Linked DNA regions of Homo sapiens. The protein of the gene in region 1 interacts with the protein of each later gene in a biochemical or structural test. Each region holds a gene or a part of one and is shown on either strand. Other genes may lie near its edges.

Region 1 (7,021 bases):
TTCCTCGGCATTCCTCACCAGGTCAGGTTCCTGCGGCCACCTCCCTCATGAGGCCGACGTGCTCCTGATGTTTTGAAGCGGTGTTCATATTCTCCCACTTCTGTAGAGCAAGCAGGAAAGAGTAGGTACCTTCTGCTCACTGTCTTTTGTCTGGCTTTGAGTCCCATTTCTTTTCCTTCTTGTTTTAGCGGAAGAAAGAGATTTTTACTTACTGTTCCTTTGAGACCTTGTTGCCTAGCTTTTAAAAATGCCCTTTTCACTCTTTCTGTTTTAGGAGTGACTATTCCCTGGCTAAATATTGGCATGGTCTTTTCTACCTCATGCTGGTCTCGAGACCAAAATCACCTTCCATACATTGACTACTTACACACTGGTGCTGACTGCATTTGGTGAGTACTGGCCCCAGGCGGGAAGGGAGGGACTGCAGAAACTACTATTACCACATGAAGTGGGGCCTGTGGGTAACTTCTTGTCCAGGTGGTTCCACGTGCTTGAGAACTTGCTTCTCTGTGTTCAGGCCTGTCCTGCGTTCCCTGCCGAAGCCTGGGCCTGGGATCACCTACCTCTGTTGGAAGAGTTGGGGTGCTGGAGAATGTTGTAACACTGTCTGATGATGAGCAAATCTTTTCATATGCTTAGTGGCCATTTAAGTTCCCCTTAGTTCCTTAAGTTCCCTTAAGAATTACCTACTTACGTCTGTTTTTGTTTTGTTTTGTTTCGTTTTGTTTTGTTATGGATTAGTCACTTTTTCTTGTGGATTTCCAAGAGTTATTTTCACCTTAGGGTTAAGGAACAGTAGTAAAAGTGCCACACAAAGCTAACCAGTAGTAGTGACCGTGTCATCAGCCCTCTAGTAACTGAATATAAACCGTGGTATTTCATGATTGGTTATTTTCAGCCTCTCTGTAGAGCCAGTGTTTCCTCATCTATCGGTGGCTGTGGGGAGTAGAGTTGACTTGGGAATCTCGTTCCTGCCATGTGGAGACACGCGCGTTATGTACCCTGTGGAGTCTGTTGCCTGGCGAGGTGTTCTGGGTCCCCGCCTGTAATCTGACTCTCACTGTAGCCATCCCTGATTGAGGCTGGGTCCCCGCCTGTAATCCTGACTCTCACTGCACCCATCCCTGATCGAGGCTGGACTCTTTGGTGTCTTTGTTTACGGCGGCAGATGGGAAATGACTACAAATAATCAGATGTCTTGTCGTCTGATCGTTTACCGGCATGCTGTTCATGCCATGCTGACTGTGTTTATTGCCCTAATGGGGTGATTAAACATTCTTTATTAAAATAAACAAAGTCTTAGGACTCGTGTTCTCCCTCTTTGGAGCCAGCGTCGGCTGCAGCCTCCTCATTTTGGCTGTTCTGGTGAGTGGTGCTGTGGACATGAGGGAGCCCTCCCTTCCCACATGGGTCTGTGTGCCATGGACGGTGATCATGGTGTCCTGCAGTGGGTCCAGAGTGATGGGCCCGGGAAGCCCAGGCTGTTGCCTGTGGAGCGGGGACTGACAGGAGCCTTGGGGCTTAGCCGGGCCAGGCCACCAGCTGGGGAGGGGACAGCCAGGACTATTCCGAGAGGTGCCTTTGCCTCCGGAAGAAGAGCGTGGCCATTTCCTGTGGAGGAGTTACACTGGCTGTGGCATGGCCTGTGTTCTGGGGTCATCCCCAGGCCAGTGACCTCAGGCCCGAGTTTCTTCCGTGTGGGTTTGCTTATGGCTTGACGTTGAGTCACAGATAGCAAAATGTGATACCCTGTGTGGGCTTTTTGAAGACTCACTCCTGGAACCTCATTGACAGGAGAGAAAGAAAAGGCAGGGATAGGATCAGAGAACATGATGGTGTGTAGTTTTTCTTAAAACATGTGATTTAGGTTAGAAACCCTGTATTTAAATTACCAATCAGTAACAGAATATGTTGGCATTGAAAATAACATGAGCATTAAAAAAAATACTTCCTTCACTGAGCAACTGAAACCAGGATTTGGCCTCAGAGAGAAATGCTTTCATCACAGACACATAGGGGCTGCAGAGTTGCTGCCCGCCTGGACCTGGGGGGCGGGGGCTGTGGGGAGGGGCTGGCGGTGTTGCCCTGAGCTGCTGGCCCACATCTTTGTGTTTAATGGTGGTTGATGGCTTCACTGGCTTAGCATCCTGAAGACCTGTCAGGCCCCTCTCCACACTGATGTCCTCCTCTTGCCTGGGGAGGAGCCCCTCAGACAGCCTGAGACACCCAGGGGCAGGGCAGCCATCCCTGCACCCCTGCCTTGCGGGGGGCCTCCCCTCACATCCCCCTCATTCATGCTGTGAGCCTGACACCAGGGGCGTCACACGTTGTGAGTGGAAGTGTGGCCCTGGTGGGCTCCAAGGACATGGGCAAAACCTCCTCCCCTCCCTGTGATTGCCGTGAGGAGGCCGTGTAGGTTACTTTCTACCTGTACCTCCCACCTTTTCTTACACTTGAGGACCCCTGCCATGGTTATACCCTGGAGGGTCTGTGAGCCACCACTTCCCCAGGCCACCCTCTGACAGAGGCCTATGAGCCCTTGATCCTCCTGTGTGTCTTGCTGTATGTGCCTGATGCCGGGTAGGCTGGGTCCTAACACGTAAAACTCTCCAGTGGGGAGCAGAGCTGGGGGCCCCTAGCTATCCCCTGACCCCTACTTCACCACAGCATCTGCCAAGGAGTTGGCCTTGAGGTGGCACATGTGCATGAGCCTGGCTCCTTCCCCAACTCTCTGTGCATTTGTAGAGGGCAGGGTTTACTGTTCCTGTCTGGAGGGCCGAGGGAGCCACGTATTCCTTGTGAGGACATTATCAGGTGCTGCTCCTGCAGTGGCCTCTGTTAACAGAAGGAGGGTGCAGTGCTGGAGCCTCAGAAGAGGCTCGTGGAGGCCGCAGTGTGTCTGGTTCTGATTTCTAGGGGTTTGTGAACATCTGTTTGTGGTTTGAAGGCTTTTTGGCTCACCAGGTGGGTCAGATCTCCATAAAAGATGAGCATCTCGCAACGCGGATGCACTGTGGTTTGGCTGTGTGCTAGGTGGACGTGGCACTGCTGCCATGGGAAATGGGAGCCAGCAGTGACCAGGCACCCAGCCAGGCCAGTGCGCCATCCCTGCCGGCGTGGAGCAGAGCCTCTCGTGTGCTCGGGTCCCTGAGGGTGACGGGGGTGGCCCAGTACATGCAGGAGGCCCTTGTCAAGTCTCTGCTTGTCTCTTGTGTCTCTCAATGACCCAGGTATTGCATTCCTGCTGAGGAGGAGAACAAGCTGGAAGATGTGGTCCACACCCTGCTGCAAGCCAATGGCACCCCAGGGCTGCAGATGCTGGAAAGCAACGTCATGGTGCGTCCACTCAGCCACCGCCTCCAGCAGGAGCTGTAGGACCTCCTAGGCACTTGAACATGGTTTCCCATGAACCCGCCTTTCAAAGGCAATGAGGACACAGCAAAACAAATCCCCAGGGTGCAAAGGGAAAGGTCCTCTGACACAAAAGCCAAACTGACCTTCCATCAGATTGCACAGGGCGCTGGGGTTTTGCACGGCCTTTGCATCTGTTTTGGGGCTTGTTTGTGTTGTGGGCTGCTGTGGGCCCTGGGATTTCTTGTGCCCGCCGCTCCTACCTTCTGGGCATGTGAGAGGAATGAGCACAAAGGCTTCTTCACCTGTTTTCAGGAAGTCATGGGGCTGGTGAGTTCCTGGGAAGTGCTGCTTTGAGCTGAGTTCTGACCAGCTTCTCTGGCCTCTGCTGACCCTGCCGGTCCCGCCTGTCCATCTTAGAGAAGAGATGGACGGGGGACTCCTTTGTAAGCCCAGCCTGTGGGCCTGTGGCCTACTTGGCTCTGGAGATGAGCCCGGCAGCCTCCTGGTTGTGTAACCTTGTCCTGTTTCCAGCCCTGGCATTGCCACGTGGGGACAGAGGGGCCTGTGTGGTCATCATGTCCTCAGCTGTGCATGAACCTGTCATCACTCTTGGACCAGTGCAGTTTAGAAGCTCCTTCTTGTGTTATGAATGACGTCTTTTTATTTTCCACATAAAACAATCTTATCTCCTTGAGAGCAGGCCTCTTAGGGTGCGCATACGTCACCTGAAGACTGCAGGTGTCCCTGCGCACAGGGAGGGGTGCCTCAGCCTGGCCCTGTCTCCCCAGATCTCCCCGGAGGTGCTGTGCAAAGAGGGGATCAAGGTGCACAGGACCGTGCAGCAGAGTGGCCAGTTTGTCGTCTGCTTCCCGGGATCCTTTGTGTCCAAAGTGTGCTGTGGGTACAGCGTGTCTGAAACCGTGCACTTTGCTACCACCCAGTGGACAAGTATGGGCTTTGAGACCGCCAAGGTGAGCAGAGCCGGCCTCCTCCCGCTTGCTGCCCCCGCATCCCTGTGAGTGCCGTGCGTGAGCGCACACAGAAGCATCCCTGCGTGTGCGTGTCTATTTGTCAATAGTTCCTTTTGGAATATGTCTTTGAAATTCTTAAGACGTGGTTGAAAGGTCTTCTAGGAATGAAAAGTTGTTAGGGATTTGTTTGTATCACAAAGAGTTTTGATCAGACCGTTACTGACAGACCCCTCCAGTATTGGAAAACTGTTGAAGATGCTCAAGGTAATTGCTTAGAATGGACAGAGAACCTCCACCCATCGTGAGGGAGTGGCAGCTGCCTCTGGGTAGCGGCGAAGTGCTATGACTTTTCCTGGTATGTGGTGCCTTTCTCACAGGGAGGCAAAGTTTTGAAGAGTTTTTAATCTAAATGCAATTCAAGATTTAGAAATTCAGACAGCCTGCCTGCCCCCTCCACCAAGAAGAACCTTGACAGCTGCCTAGTAATGAAAATCCACCCTAAAGGGATGTGACTCCTCTTTCAGGAAATGAAGCGTCGCCATATAGCTAAGCCATTCTCCATGGAGAAGTTACTCTACCAGATTGCACAAGCAGAAGCAAAAAAAGAAAACGGTCCCACTCTCAGTACCATCTCAGCCCTCCTGGATGAGCTCAGGTAACAGACCCCCAGAGCCCACGCCAGAGAGCTGGACCCGGCTGCCCTTCGGGGGCTCACCCCCCGAGCAGGCCTCACTTCCTGACAGGAGGGTGTGTCTGCAGGGAGGCCGGTGTGGGGTGCGTGTGTCCCCTCTGCTGGTGAGCATGGCAGGCCGTCACTAAAGGTGCGGGCCGTCTCCCGTGTCTGGCAGGGATACAGAGCTGCGGCAGCGCAGGCAGCTGTTCGAGGCTGGCCTCCACTCCTCCGCACGCTATGGCAGCCACGATGGCAGCAGCACGGTGGCGGACGGGAAGAAAAAGCCTCGAAAGTGGCTGCAGTTGGAGACGTCAGAGAGGAGGTGTCAGATCTGCCAGCACCTGTGCTACCTGTCCATGGTGAGCCCGCCTGGCCCTGCCGGCGCCCTCGCATGTAGTGCTTGGCCTGAGAGCTCCGGGGTTGCCCCCAGAAGAGGGAGGGCGCTCTCTGCCCAGGAGACCTGCTGTGCTCCCATCTCTGGAGCCGGCTGTGGGACCTCGGCGGAGCTTCTGGCCGCCGGAGGTGGCTGCCTCACCCACAGTGACCAGGCCACACAGAGGCTGTCCCTCTGTTCTGCCCACGCGTGGCCCTCCCTCGGTCCTGCAGTGCGTCCTTCCTCCCTGGGGAGCAGGTGGCCTCCCTCTCCGCCCTACTTTGTCACTCCAGCCCCCACGCACTCTGCTCTTACCCATTCTTTCTGAGGCAGTGAGGGGCGGGTTTCCAGTACTGGGCAGCGTCTGCCATTCCCTGTGGCCTGTGCCTGGTGCACCTGGGCCCATGGCCTCTGCCCTTTGGCTCTGTTCTTGGTTTCCTGGTCCTGCTCAGCTACATGATCTGCCTCAGCCCCCGAGGACTTCAGAATCTATCCTTGGTGAAAGCTGATGTTCCTCCTGTCCCATCTGGGATCAGAGATGCTTTTCTGGCACAGCCACTCCAGGCCACAGCAGGCTGCATTCCTCTTGCCTTCTCGACTGTGCCCTGCTGGCTTCCTCGTGCCCACCTGCCTGCCTCAGCTTTGGGGTTAATACCAAACACCTCCTCCCCCTGCTCACCCCTGTTCCAGCCCAGAGGTGGGCTCAGAAAAGCCCTTCCATGGCGACTGGATGGCTGTGGCCTCGCCATGCTTCTTCCAGTCTCCCCTTGACCTCTCACCAGAGAGCTGCCCTGACACACTCTGGGTAGGGACGCCCAGCTGGCACTGCAGATGGCTCCACAGCACTACACACCTTAGCCTGGAACAGAGAGCATGCCCGAAGGGCCTGACCTGCCTCCCCGGGCCTCGTCCCTTTCCACAGTGCCTCACATCTCCAGTACAGAAGCCTAGCTTAGGAGGTGCCCACCCCATATGCTGTGTGGTGCCTGTGTCCCACAGGTGCCCCCTTCGGCTGCACACTCGCTGAGAGGCCAGTGCCTCTGCGTCCCTCTGCTTGTCCATGGTGGGCCAGGACTGAGACCCGGGTCGACTCTCCTTGGCCTCCCAGTGTGACTGTGTCATGCCGTCTCACCCCGAGTCCTGGCGTGCCCTGTAGAAGAGGGAGGACACAGCCTCTCCCGGATGAGTCAGATCGTCAGATCGTCAGATCAGGGCTTTGTAACATTTGAAAGAGCTAAAAACTCGGTGTGTCCTCATCTCCTCCTTACCTAAGGACGCAAATCACATTGTATCAGATAGGCCCACCCTCATGGCCTCATTTGAGCTGATTTACCTCTTTAGAGGCCCTACCCCCAACTGCAGTCACAGCTGAGATCCTGGAGGTTCAACGTTTGCATTTGATGGGGGACAAATGCAGTCCGTGACCGCCCTGCCTCCTGTCCTGTAGATTTCCTTCTGTCTGGTTTTTTCCCCCAGACTTCTCAAAATGTATTACCTAGAGCCATTTGGTTCTTAAAAGAAAATGATGATAAGCATTTTCCCAGATCTTCAAAGTATCTTATAAACATCACTGATAAAAGCTGCATAGCTTGGTGTGCTCTCTCTCTGTTCTTTTTTTTTTTTGTTTGTTTGAGACAGTCTTGCTCTGTT
Region 2 (7,271 bases), on another chromosome or scaffold:
AGCAAAGGCCCGGGCGCCCGGCCCTGGCTCGCGGAATGGGCGGCCAGATCTCAGGCCCTGCGTGCCCGAGCTCAGTCCCAGTTCCAACCGGGGGTGCCCATGGACTCTCGGAGGGCACTCCTGGGGGGACAGCTAAGACACCAGGCTGCAGGATCACTCATTGCACGCTGCATAATCGCCGCCACAAACTCTCCCGTGCGCAAGAACAAACGCGCGTGGGACAGAAAAAGTTCCTAGGTCTCCGCAGGAGTGAATGCAAAATCCAGGGGACTCAGGGTCATGTTGGGAGCCCCTTCTCCCCCCGAGAGTCAGGGAGCTGTTGAGGTGGGATCGGTCAGGGTCGCGCCACGCGGGTCCCTTCCCTACCAGGCTCGGATACCATGCAGCGTGGACACTCCCGAGTTGCTCTGCGGAATCCCGGGGCTCTGAACCGCATTCAAGTCCCCGACGCCGAAGTTCACGAAGTTGTTGTTGGCGGCGGCAGTGGCCGGCTGCGCTGGGGAAGGCCCGGCGGGGTAAGCGGCAGTGCAGCTGTAGCCAGGGCTGCAGGCCGCGCCGCCGTAACCCGGATAGGCGGGGTAGGCGTTATAACCGTAGGGATTGAGGCCCACGCCGTAGGCAGGCGCGTAGGGCGCCGAGTCCCCTAGGCATGGCTTGCCATCGCGCACCAGCACTGGCACCGCGATCCTGCGGGCAGGCGGCGGCGGCGGCGGGGGCAGCCCCACCAGCTCCAGAGTCTGGTCCTGCCGCTGCCGCTTGCACTTGTAGCGCCGGTTCTGGAACCAGATCTTGACCTGCGTGGACGTGAGTTTCAGCACGCTGGCCAGCTGGTCGCGTTCGGGGGCCGACAGGTACCGCTGCTGCTTGAAGCGCCGCTCCAGCTCATAGACCTGCGCCTGCGAGAAGAGCACGCGCGGCTTCCTCCGCCGTCGCGCCCGGGGCCGCTCCGCGTTGTCCGCCTCTGTCTTCTCCAGCTCCACCGCCTTCTGCAGCGCGCACAGCTCTGAGGGGGAACAGAGAGGCAGAGAGACGCTTGGTAAGAGCGGCTTGACCTACGGAGCGCGGCCGCACAGTAATGGTAAGGGATCCTCGTGGAGGCCACTGTGTCCTGCCTGGAGCGCCCAGCTGGCTGCGGCTCACTCTGCCAAGTGCACTGGGAGCCACCGACACGTCTCACTCAGCATTTGTAGAAAGTCAGGCTGGCTCAAGGCGCTGGAGAACAAAACGGGAGGTCTCTGCCCTCGGGGCAGTTCACACCCTGGTGAGGGAGACAGACGGTGACTTAAAATTTCAGGCTGCAAAAAAAAAAAAAATAAATAAAAAAATAAAAAAATAAAAATAAAACCAGGTGATGCTCTGGGGTGAACTGAATTAGGGCTAGTTTGGTTTGAGAAGTTAAATGAACAGAGGCCGAGGCCTCACTGCTAGGGACGGTCTTATCTCAAAATTAAGGAATCAAGAAACAGAAGGCCAGGGAGTGTTGGTTTGGTGATCGGAGGCTCCAGCCTGGCCGCAGCAGGGTTTGCGCAGTGTCCAAGAAGCTGCGGGTGGGCAGGCGGCCTCGGAACCTGCCTTGCTGGCTTCCTCGAATTGGTAGCGATCAGTTCTAGCCGCCGTGCCCGCCCGAATTTGTTCCCAGGCCTCTGCTCCTCAACAAACCTATGAATTCTCTCCCGGCTGGCAGCGGCCCTTCGCCCAGCGCTTCGCCCAGCGCCTGCGGCCTCCCGGGAATCGCCCGGGCTCCTGCCTTGGGCTGGGGGGTCTCCCAGAAGGCCCCTTTCTGCAGCGGGGCCGGCCTCCCTCCCCGATCCTGGGATGGCCTGCGGGATGATCCCGCACTCATCTCGTCCACTCCCTTGTGCCCGCGGTAGCGCAGCATTTCCTAACTTTTCCACGAGGGAACCTCTCCGCCCTGGCCGCGCCGGCAAGTTGTGCTGAAAAAATAAAGTGAAGTCAGATTCCTGAGGGTCCGCAGTATCCCATTTTAAAATCAAGGCCCTCGATCCCAGACTCCACTTTCCTGGCGCAAAGAAAGAAAGGCACCAGAAACCCGGGTCGTGGGTGGGCTGCAGAAAGAAGGTCCAGGACCCTCCTCCGATTGTACGCAAAAGCTGTCTGGTGAGCAACATTTCAATTTCTGTTTAGCGGTTCTCATCAGATCTTTAAAAAGATTCGTAAATCCAAAGGAGATTTAAAAACAGAGATTATCTGCTTGTCTCTCTGTTCTGTCTACCATAAACCGATTTCTCAACTTCCTACCAGACCCAGGAGCAGAGCCGAAGCCGCCCGGGGCTTTGTTAGGCCGGGGGGAAACGTTTTTTGGTCTCTTGCTTCTGATCCTTTCAATCCGGCATTTCCTCTGAACCTCCGATTGGACGCGGGGCGCGGGAGCCTGGCGACAACACCAGGCATCTTACATTCTGAACCCCCCGCCGCAGCCCAGCCCTCGGCCCAAGGGCGCGTGTCTCCTCCTCCTGGCCCTGAGTTTCTTGGGGACGAAAGCGACCCAGGAGGGGAGAAGGGGGCCTGTGTTTCCTCCTCACCTTTCTTTTCGGCTCTAGGGTCCTTGGCTGGGTCGGGGTCGCTGTAGGCACGTGGATAGAAGGCGGGGGCGGCGGGAAAGGCAGACGCACACTTGGCCGGTGAAGGCGCGCGGCCCAGCTCTGCGCGCAGCTCTGGGAGGCCCGGCGCAGCCGCCTCGGGCCCAGCGTAGGCCTCTGGCTTGAAGGCGGCCAGCATGCAGGAGGAGGGCGCCAGGGTCGCCTCCAGGCGGGCAGAGAGCTCTCCGGCGGCAGCCAGGCTGCGCTGCTGCTGTTCCAGGTTTAGGATGTCTTTGACTGAGAAGGGCGTGGGCGTGAGAGCAGGGCTGGGGAACATGGTGGCAGCGCCAGTCTCACAGCGCCAGGTGGGCGGCAGAAAGCGGCGCTGCCCACGGCCCCTGGCAGCTTCCCTGCATGGTGCCGCCGCCCGCCCGCGCACCCGTCGGCCAGCTCTGGATGTGTCCGGGCAGCAGGTAGCGCTGAGCACAAGGGGCAGGAGAGGCGGGACCAGGCCAGAGGAGGGGGACTCAGCCTGCCATTGGGCCAGGGGCCTCGATGACAGGAGCGATGAGCAGTTTCGTGTCACCTAATATAGTCATACGGCAAAAAAAAAAAAAAAAAAAAAAAAAAAAAAAAAAAAAAAAAGCCCTGCCCAGCTTTTTTAAAGGGGCCACGACGCATTTGGAAGGGTCTCCTTTTGCTCCTGCAGCCTGCGTTTGCTCCCTAATGTGAGCCTGAAAAGCCTACCAGAGGCATGCAGAGTCAGGCCTCTGGGCAGGGCTGGATGGGTGTGGGTTTGAAGAAATATTCCTCAGCACCCAAACCAGCATGGGAGAGAGAAGGATGGGGTGGGAAGCGGTGGGGAGGAGAGTGATTTGAGGAAGGCTTTATTACTGAAGGTGGTGGGATGAGGGAGAGTCTGAATAGGAAGAGAAGCCTGGAGGACAGGGCTGGCTTTGGGGATAGCAGCAGGGCGAGATTCTGGACAATTCGGGGGTTTGGTTTGGCTTGGCCTACAGGGTCAGTCATGCCGCAGGCTCTGGGTGCTTCTGGGCGAGTCAACGAAAGTAAGGGCAAGGTGAGTGATGGCCAGGTGGGGTAGGAGTTGCTGCCTCCTACAGTAGTGTTATGCACAGCACAACTCCAGGGGGCATCAGTCACTGCCAGTACCCTCCCAGGGAAATGCCTCTCCCCTTAATAATGAAATAAATCAGGAATCCCAGCTGGTAAGCTCAGCTTCCCAGGAGACACCTGTCTTGTGGAGTGCCCCAGCTACCAGCCACCTTGTTTCCCCTGTTTGGAGGCCATCGATCCCACCTCCCTCCTTCCCGTGCCCTCCCTGCCTGGCAGCAAGGCCCTCAGGCTTCTGCCAACCTCGAGGTTTCAGGGTCCTAGCCCAGGTTTAGCTCTCAGGGAGGCGGGGCTCCTCTGAGCCCAGCTAGGCCAGGATTTCTCTGAGGCCTCTGGGCCGGACTTCCAGTGGGGCACCCCTGCGGCTCGGTCAGGCGCGTGGGGGAAGGGCAGGGCAAGTGGGGTGATCATGATCATTTTTAGCCCAGGGTCAGTAGAGTAGGGCACAGAAGTCAGACAAATCTGCCAGAGTTTCAGGAGCGCCAGCTACATGGCCAGATCCTGCCCGGGTGGCCTCATTTCTCTGGGTCCCCGCACTCCTTGGGAGGTCTGATGAAAGCTTGGGGTCTTCTCCATTCCCCAGAACACTGCAGAGAGGAGTTTTATTTTGCTTACAATTCAGGAGTCCGGGCAGGCAGAGCGGGCCCAGGTTAAGGACGCCTTCTAGAGCTGGGGATGACAGGATTTGTCAGTGGAAAAGCGTTGGCTTCTCACGGCCCTAGCTGGTACAGGGAACCGCGGGCGGGAAGCTGGGCGGGACGCGTGGACTTGCTGAGAATGGGGATGTGGAGGGCTTGGCTCTTTGCGGAGTGCGGGTTGGCAAGAGGCGCTTGGAGTAGAATAAAGGCGGCGCAGGGCCAAAAACTACCTAAAGACACAGCTCCCGCAGGCGCGCCCAAGGTGCGGAGGAAACGCTCCATGTATGGGGACAAAATAGTGTCTGTCCAGAACGTACATCTTGGGTGCTCAAACCCGACAGTGTGCCGTCTGAGACGCCGACGCAAGTGAAGTCAAGCATTGGCCTGATGTTGGGACTTTTCCTGTCCCTCATCAAAGCCACACTCCCAGGACCTGGGGCCTCCATGCTGGGGAGAGAGGTGAGCCCCGCAGGGCAGCCCAGGAGGCGCGCAACGCCCTGACCCCGGCTTCTAGGCGCCAGCCGTCAGTAACAGGCCTGGGCTGCCACGCCGAAATCACGCCTCGAGTTTCTGAGCCAGGGACTACTGGGGGTCTGGAATTGTTAGTCTAGTCTGTGGAGGATGCCTTTTCTTAAATGTGGGGCGTTCAAGGCCCAGGAAACCTCGTCCCCCCACCTCTTCACCTCCCAACCCAAATTCTCCTTGGACGGAGCTGCATGTCAGCGGCCTTGCGGCCCTTCCTCGCCTGGACTTTTGGCCACGTTACCGTTATGGCTGTAAATTAACCTAGCTTGGGGGCCCGCCTTGCCTTTGAAGATTGTTTTCGAGCGCGGGCGGGGGGGGGTGTCGTTGGAGAGGATGCCTATCGCCGAGGCGGTGACGTCTGGCAAACGAGCCACATCCGATTCAATTAAATGTCTCGCTGAAAAGAGCTCGGAACGAGGGTCCTGGGAGCGCTGTTAAGTGAATCTGCTGGCCAGGCGGCTCGCGATGACAGTTTGAAAGATTAGTGTGAGCGGACGCCTGAAATATTACCGTTTAATGGGGGACATCGAGGCTACATCCGGGATCCCTGTTTTTAGTAAGGTTTTTTTTTTTTTTTTTTTGAGAGCTCTGGAGAAAGAAAAAAATTAGCATTGCCCTTGCAAATCAAGGTGGCAAGGATTTATTTCCTATTTTCGGGTAAGGGGGCTTCCTAGAACTGTCAGTCCTGTGGGTCAGGTGTTACAAAAAGGGAAGGAAAAAAAACTCTCCCTATTTGAACAAGATCAGTGACTGTTACACTCTCTATGCTCTTTGTGAATCGGGTAATGATTTCTCTTGGCTTCCAAAAAGGTCTTGGTGTTGCAGGAGAGAGGAGATGGGGCAAAAACGGACAAATACGTGCAAAATAGAAATTGGGGCGACCCATGCTGGTCTCCTTAGAGGAAAGTCCGAGAGCCATTTGCAGCTTTTCTTTCCAGTCCTCACTGTTTCCGAGTGAGTTAAAAAAAAATCCCTCTAAATAGATCTAAATAGAAATTGCAATAGTTGGGGGTTGGGTGGGAGGAAACTTGATTCTCTGGCCCCCAACAGGGACACATCTTTTTTTCCCAAGGGCCGCTGACCCAACCTGGCCGCCTCTCTGCGCCGCACTTTGACCAAACTAGCAGGACAAACAAACAGCCTTCAGCCTAGAGAAAGGCAGAGAGAGACAAAAGGAGAGAGAAGAGATCGAAAATCTATCTGTGTATTTCCTTGACTTTTAAAGAGTTGGTGCTTTAAGATAATCCAAATTCCAGGGTGGCTCGAGCGCATTCTCCGTGAATAAATTATTATTAATTGAAAAGCGATCGGCGCAGCCGGAGCCGGCCCCCCTTTCGTGCAATCAGCAGGGCTGGTCGCAAAAGGTATATATGATTAATTGAAAGATAAGCTGGAACTATCACCGGGAATGTCATTAATGCGCTGGGGAGACGTCCATTGGAGACAGGCGGCGTTATCCGCGGCTTTATCTTCAACAACGCCTCGCTCTCGGCCCGCGCGGGGGAAACAGATGGGAGTTTCTGTCTGGGACGCTCGCCCCATGTTTATATTTTGGGAAGAATCGCAACTCGTGGGAGTCCCCGGCTGGCCCCCTGATAAATGAACATTAGCACTTTTTCGGACTACTGTATCAACAAAGGGGCTGCGGCGCTGCAATAATTGGCGAGAAAGCAAACAGAGGGCCGAGAGCGCGACTCTGCTCTTCGTCCGGCTGATGGATGAGCAGCTCCGGCTGCGCGCCGGACTCCCGGCCTCGGCCTCCGCCTCCGCCTCCGCCTCCGCCTCCGCGCTGGGCCCCTCCGCCGCCCGGCTTCCTTCCTGGCCGGGAGTTGGGGGCGGGGGGCGACTCTGAGGGCCGCCGACCTCGCCCTTGGCTCCGGAAGAGTCCAGGCGGCCTCCGCGGCACCGGATTTTTCCTGCCTCGGGACTCGCCTCATTCAGGTGGCTCAGCTGGCACCAAATCCTTCTCATTTCCACGCTTGTTCAGTGCCCACGGGGTGTGCCAGGCGCTCTCACGGATCTCGTCACGGATCCTCTTATTCCGACTGCAGGCCTGAGGAGAATGAGGTTCAGAGACGTGGAGTAAGTTGCTCAGGGTCACACAGATGGGAAAGGACAGTGTCAGGGTGTTAGGATTCGAACACACAGCTGACTGCACAGCTGAGACTGTTTTCTTTTATTACACGTCGCTGCGCCCAAGACCGTACCAACTGGAGGAAGAGCAAGACCCCCACCATCACCCCCCACCCCGCAGCCAGGGGAGAGGACCAGGCTGTTGGATTTGAGATGCCAGGTCTCCCCAACCTTCATAGACAAGGGAGATTTCCTGCATAAAGTTCATTTGAGAAAGAGAGGGGGAGAGAGGAATTTAACATGCGTTCATTTCACTTCCGCCTTCCCCTCCCCTCGCTCTCCCACTTTTCCTTTCCCTTCTCCC

What was found. Proteins that work in one complex are often made in the same cells at the same time.
Region 2: the proteins of JARID2 (region 1) and NKX2-5 form a complex in vitro, tested with the Homo sapiens proteins (one study listed by BioGRID).

The regions. Positions count from the first base shown.
Region 1 is NC_000006.12:15,508,066-15,515,086, forward strand, and holds part of JARID2 (protein Jumonji), read left to right. Parts: intron 1-274; coding exon 275-389; intron 390-898; coding exon of another isoform or gene 899-1,049; exon of another isoform or gene 1,050-1,292; intron 1,293-3,230; coding exon 3,231-3,336; intron 3,337-4,142; coding exon 4,143-4,325; intron 4,326-4,849; coding exon 4,850-4,980; intron 4,981-5,173; coding exon 5,174-5,357; intron 5,358-7,021.
Region 2 is NC_000005.10:173,232,207-173,239,477, forward strand, and holds the start of NKX2-5 (homeobox protein Nkx-2.5), read right to left. Parts: upstream 3,001-7,271; 5' UTR 2,878-3,000; coding exon 2,544-2,877; intron 1,935-2,543; coding exon of another isoform or gene 1,840-1,934; exon of another isoform or gene 1,303-1,839; intron 1,296-1,302; coding exon of another isoform or gene 1,291-1,295; exon of another isoform or gene 1,259-1,290; coding exon of another isoform or gene 1,137-1,258; exon of another isoform or gene 1,004-1,136; coding exon 363-1,003; 3' UTR 1-362. UniProt on the Homo sapiens protein: Transcription factor required for the development of the heart and the spleen. During heart development, acts as a transcriptional activator of NPPA/ANF in cooperation with GATA4.